Linked DNA regions of Homo sapiens: region 2 is linked to region 1. The links come from fine-mapping of genetic effects on gene expression. Tissue or cell type: adrenal gland. Region 1 holds a variant in brackets; the other region holds the start of a gene. All regions are shown on one strand. Distances are from middle to middle.

Evidence for each region. PIP is the estimated chance that this variant, and not a neighbour inherited with it, causes the effect. A credible set is the group of variants that fine-mapping cannot tell apart.
Region 2: it holds the start of WNT9B, and the variant in region 1 is the best candidate, but not a certain one, in a credible set for the expression of WNT9B in adrenal gland (GTEx, PIP 0.62).

The regions. Positions count from the first base shown.
Region 1 is chr17:46,894,352-46,897,106 of GRCh38, forward strand. It overlaps a transcript of LRRC37A2 not described here. Among named protein-coding and RNA genes, the nearest start is that of LINC01974, 17 kb to the right of the region's middle. RefSeq lists an enhancer at 13-633. The variant G/T (reference allele first, on the strand shown) is at 1,093.
Region 2 is chr17:46,850,642-46,853,141 of GRCh38, forward strand. It overlaps WNT9B (Wnt family member 9B), which reads left to right and starts at 942. Exons shown (of 4, transcript NM_003396.3): 1 at 942-1,074. The coding sequence starts at 998. It also overlaps a transcript of LRRC37A2 not described here.

The sequences.
Region 1 (2,755 bases):
GGGGGGTCAGCCTACCCGACCTTGGGTTTTGCCAGGCCTCATAAGATTCCAATGTAGGTTTACACAGAAGGTCACTGGCTGATGTGCAGGGGTCATTAAGTCCCCCTAAGACAGGTGCCAGGAAACCTACCAATTGGATAATTAGGCTTGCCCCGACCCTACAGCCCTTGAGGGAGCAGACCTGGACTTCAGCTGCCCTCCCCATGGGGCGGAAGTGCCGGCACTGCGGGGGTCCCCTGGTGGAATGTGGCTGTGGTGGGTGCTGGGACAGAGGGCTTGGCTGACAGATCTAAGGCTGCCGCCTGCCACCAGGTCTCCGTGGGGCCGCCAGCCGGCCCCCCTCCTGTGGAATGACGAGCTCACTCCCCCCACCTGGCGTTTAATCTTTAATGCAGTCCCAGCTGCCCTCGGGCAGGACCCATCAACCCACCCGCTCTGATAAAAGCGATAATTAGCTCTTTTTCAACTTTTCACTTCTCCCCCCTCCACTCTGATGTGTGAGCATTGGGAGGATTCCAGCTAATGGGCCTGCCCACAGCCAATTCCCGGGCCATGCAAGCCGGAATGCACGGGGTCATTAGCGGGGCCTCCCGGGCAGGGGCCTGTGCTCGGGACGGGACGTGCTCGCCTGTCCGCTCTGGGGCATCCCAGCCACTGGAGAGCCGGCCGGATCTCGGCAGAGCAGACCTGCCCAGACAGGCTGGATCCCACCTTCCTTGGTGGTGGCCCCTGCCTGCACCACAGCAGAGACCACAGGAAGGTGGCCTTAGGCCCTCCCAGCGCCCGGCTGAGAGGACACGGGGCCATCAGTCCCCAGGCATCGCCCTGCTCCCAGGGCAGACAGCCCAGCCTGGGTTCAGCCACCGGTCAGTGCGGAGGCTGCTAGCTGGGATCCCCCACCCTAGCCCCACAAGTGACTTATAATAACTAACTTGTACATGGAGCCTTATGAAGTGCTTCCAGTTCTGAGGTAGCCGCAGCCCAAGGCTTAACCATGCAGGCTCAGGAGCTGGGCTGTACGAGTCAAATCCTAACTTCCCCATTTGTGTTATGAGGACGGAACCTCTCTGTGCCACAGCTCTCACCCGTGAG[G/T]TGGGGTCAGTGGCCGTGGTGCCTACCATGGAGGCTGATGTGAAGATTGAGATGATGCAGTGAAGTGCTTGACATGGTGCCTGGCCTGTCTGAGCATTCTGTCCCCGCCATTGTCACTATTTGGTTCTCTCAATAGGCCTCTAGATAATTGCTGTTACCCTGCCATGCAGAGGTTCAGAAAGGTTGTGCCTGGGAATTTCCCAAGTTTTATTTTCTTAATGATAATTGATTTAACCAGTCCTCACAGCAACGTTGCATGGCAGGTCCTGTTACTCCCATTTTGCAGAGAAGCAGCTTCCCCACGGCTCTGTGCTGGTACATGGTGGGTGCAGAAATATTTTCTGCTACTCCAAGAATCTTGCCTTGTTTGGAACCATCTGCTGCTGGGCAAGCCCCTGGTCCTACTGCAGGTGTCTGAGGATCCAGGAGACAAGTGGGAGCAGGGCCTGATCTGAGCTTGAGGGGTGGGAGCCTGGTGCTGGGCAGGGTCTTGAAGGGGAAGCTGGTGGGGGCAGAGGGGGTTCCATCTGGGGATTAAGAAAGACCAAGGCCAGGCTGGGCGCAGTGGCTCATGCCTGTAATCCCAGCACTTTGGGAGGCCAAGGCGGGCAGATCATGAGGTCAGGAGATCGAGACCATCCTGGCTAACATGGTGAAACCCCGTCTCTACTAAAAAAACCAAAAAGAAAAAACAAAAAAAATTAGCTGGGCCTGGTGGCAGATGCCTGTAATCCCAGCTACTCGGGAGGCTGAGGCAGCAGAATCACTTGAACCCGGGAGACGGAGGTTGCGGTGAACCAAGATCACACCATTGCACTGCAGCCTGGGCAACAGAGTGAGACTCTCTCTCAAAAAAAGAAAAAGAAAGAAAGAAAGAAAGAGAGAAAGAGAGAGAGAGAAAGAAAGAAAGAAAAAGAAAGAAAGAGAGAGAGAGAAGAAAGAAAGAAAGAGAAAGAAAGAAAGAAAGAAAGAAAGAAAGAAAGAAAGAAAGAAAGAAAGAAAGAAAGAAAAAGAAAGAAAGAAAGAAAGAAAGACAGACCAAGGCCAGGTACTGTGTCAGCTCATGCCTGTAATCCCAGAACTTTGGGAGGCTGAGACAGGATGATTGCTTGAGCCCAGGAGTTTGAGATCAGCCTAGGTGACAGAGTGAGACCCTGTTTCAAACAAACACATTAAAAAAAGACCAAGGTTAGCGCACAGGTCATGAACTGGTCAAGCTCCATCATGGTCACTCTCAAGGCAAAGCGACAGCTTGGCCCTGCCTATTTCCCTCCATCTGCAGACTATGTGCTGCTTTCTATGATGTCCGTCCCACCACAAGGCAGTCCTTGCCACTCACTGTCCCCTATTCCTCCTGGATTCCAGCGCCCAAGCAGGAGGGGAGTGTGTGGGGAGAAAGTCACACAGCATGGGCCTGGGACCCTGAGGGCATCTAGGGCTGGACACCCCCCACCAGAGTCCAGGCCAAAAGAAGTCCCCAAATCAACACTATTGGGTCTTACTAGGGCTTTCCAGCTTCAAGTCAAATGCTACAGACTGTGACTCTCCCACGTTCCTGAGGGGACTACAGAAGACCCACAAGCTAATGGGTGTGCCCCTGGAGGAGGTCGCTAGATAAACAGAAAGAGAGGAACTTCAGAAGAGAAAGAATCTGCTGCGACCG
Region 2 (2,500 bases), 44 kb before region 1:
CACTTGGGTCATTGGTTGTATGTCTCCTTTCTAGACAGGTACCACGCGCCGCTTTGATCTCTGCACCTTCGCAGCAGAAATTGGGGTTAAACTTTAAAAAATAATAAGCAAAACAGAACTTTGGGGCCCAACACTTGAAGTTCCCACCCTATCTACCAGAGATTCTGGCATCTACACACCTTGGAAAGTGGGTCCCTCCTCCCGCAGGGCTCTGTCTGCCCCACTGTCCACTTTGGATTTCTGCGCTGGGGAACATCAGCAGCATTTTGTCAAAAGCCCACGGAGGCCCACGCTGCGCGCCTCGCCGGTAACAGTCACTCTCCCGTTTAAAAACAGAGCGCCCTTTCCTCTCTCCCCTCTGCCCAAGACTCTTTGCCTGGCAACAGGGTCCCCTGAGCCATTGGACATGCATTTCCCCCGCTTCCAGAGAGCGGTTCTGCACCAGGACCCGGCCCTGCCCTGAGTCTGCGGGCTGCGGCGAAGAGACCGCACTTGCCCGGCAGGAGGGCGGACAATGACCCGGGTTTTCCACCGACTCCAGATGCGTCCCTCCTCCTACCCCTCCACCTTCTCTACCTCGGAGAAGCCATTGCGCTTGCCTCCGCCCCATCCCGGAGAGGCAGAATCTCCTCCGTCCCCGCCTCGTACCCTCCTCCCCGCCTCTCCAGGCCCGGGGGGCTTCACGTTCAGCCACCGCGACCCCGGGCGGGCGCGGCGCCAGGTGAGCGCTCACCTGGGGCCGGAGGGCGGGGCAATGGGGGAGGGGCGGGGGCGGTCCAGGGGCGGCTGCCCCACCCGCGACGGGGCGGGGCGAGGGCGGTGGGGCCAATGGGGCGGGGGGCTCGCCGCCCGGGGCTGGGGAGCCTCCCAATCTCCTCCTTTCCCAGCGCCGCCTGCCCCGCCCCACCCGGGTTTAAAGTCCCGCGGGCGGGTGGTGGCGGAGCTGCGAGCTTGAGCGGCGCGAGGAGATGCTAGAGGGCGCAGCGCCGCCAGCACCATGCGCCCCCCGCCCGCGCTGGCCCTGGCCGGGCTCTGCCTGCTGGCGCTGCCCGCCGCCGCCGCCTCCTACTTCGGGTCAGTGCCCGCCGCGCCCCCCGCCCGCTCCCCGGCCTGCCTGTCTCTCCCTCCTGCGCTACAGCTGGGCCAATTTTTCCCTCCCGCTGTCCTTGGCCCCGCCGAGGTCTCGAACTCAGACCCTAGCCCGGCGCGACCCAACCCACTTCGCAGTCGGAGTTCGCGCCCTGAGTTCGGTCTCCAGCTTCCCCGGCTCCGAATCCATCGCCCTGTTCAGTGTCCGAGTCTCTGGTCGCCCCCCAGCCGCCGCTCTCCTCATCCCGCCGGGTCTCGGACTCTGCGCACGCCTCGGACCCTGGCCCCGTCCGCCCCGGCCCCGCCCGTTCAGGCGTCAGTCCCGCTCTCTGATGCCCTCTCGGGATCCTCACGCCGGTGCCCTGTCTGCCGCCATCCTGGCCTCCGGCGAGCCGTCCTTGCCTCGGACTCCTTCCCCACCCTCCGCCTTCGCCCTGCGGAGCGGAGACCGAGAGGGCTGGGTGGATGGGTGGGACGGGCTGTTCCCGGTCTCGGGGCAGAGGATCGTGCGCGTCCAGGGAGAATGGGGGAAACCTCGGACGGTGAGAGCGCCAGCTGGAGACGCAGGAAGGAACCGTGCGCTGGGGAAATGCGACCACATCTCAGACCTGGCATGGGGTGATTTCTCAGGAGAACACTGGAAAGAGTGAGAGGGCCCAGTGTGTGTGTGTGTGTGTGTGTGTGTGTGTGTGTGTGTGTGTGTGTGTGTGTACATGGTTGGAAAAGGAGGATCACAGTGGGGGGTGACACCTGGGGGACAGTGGGGTAGGTGACACTGGGGAGAGAGCCGGACAGGAACTATGTGGGGAATGTTTGGAGCAAAAGTTATAGGGCAATTGTTTCCAGTCCCTTCTTCTCTGACCCTGAATTGCAGGGATTTGGTGAGGGATGGGGGCGGGTATCATGGGTAAGAAGGCACCTTCCCACCATCCACCCAAAGCCAACTCCAATATGTACAGCCTGTTACTTTAAGCCTTGCCTCCTTTTAAAATCTTCACCCCAAATCAATAGGAGGCTTACAGTCTGAGTATATACAGCAAAGGCAAGAAAACACCAAGCAAGTGACCTGCTAGAGGCTGCTTTGAAGAAGTAGCCAGGGAGAGGTATGTAAAGGTCTGAGAAGTTCTGCACAGGTTGGAGTAAGGGCTGTGGGCTAATTTCCAGGTCATGACCCCTGGTGGAAACATGTCTGGGCTGTGGAGGAGGGTATCATCCCAGACCCTAGCTCTGGGCTTAGCTTGCTAATGATATGGGAAGACCACTCAGTCTCTGGGCCTCACTTTCTCCTTTTGTACAAAGAAGGGGTTGAACTTGATATGACTGATCCTTTTGCGATCCACCCCAACAGCAGTGCACAACTTGTTTGTTTCCGAAGATTTCAGGCTTGAAGGAATGGTTGTTCCCTCGGCAG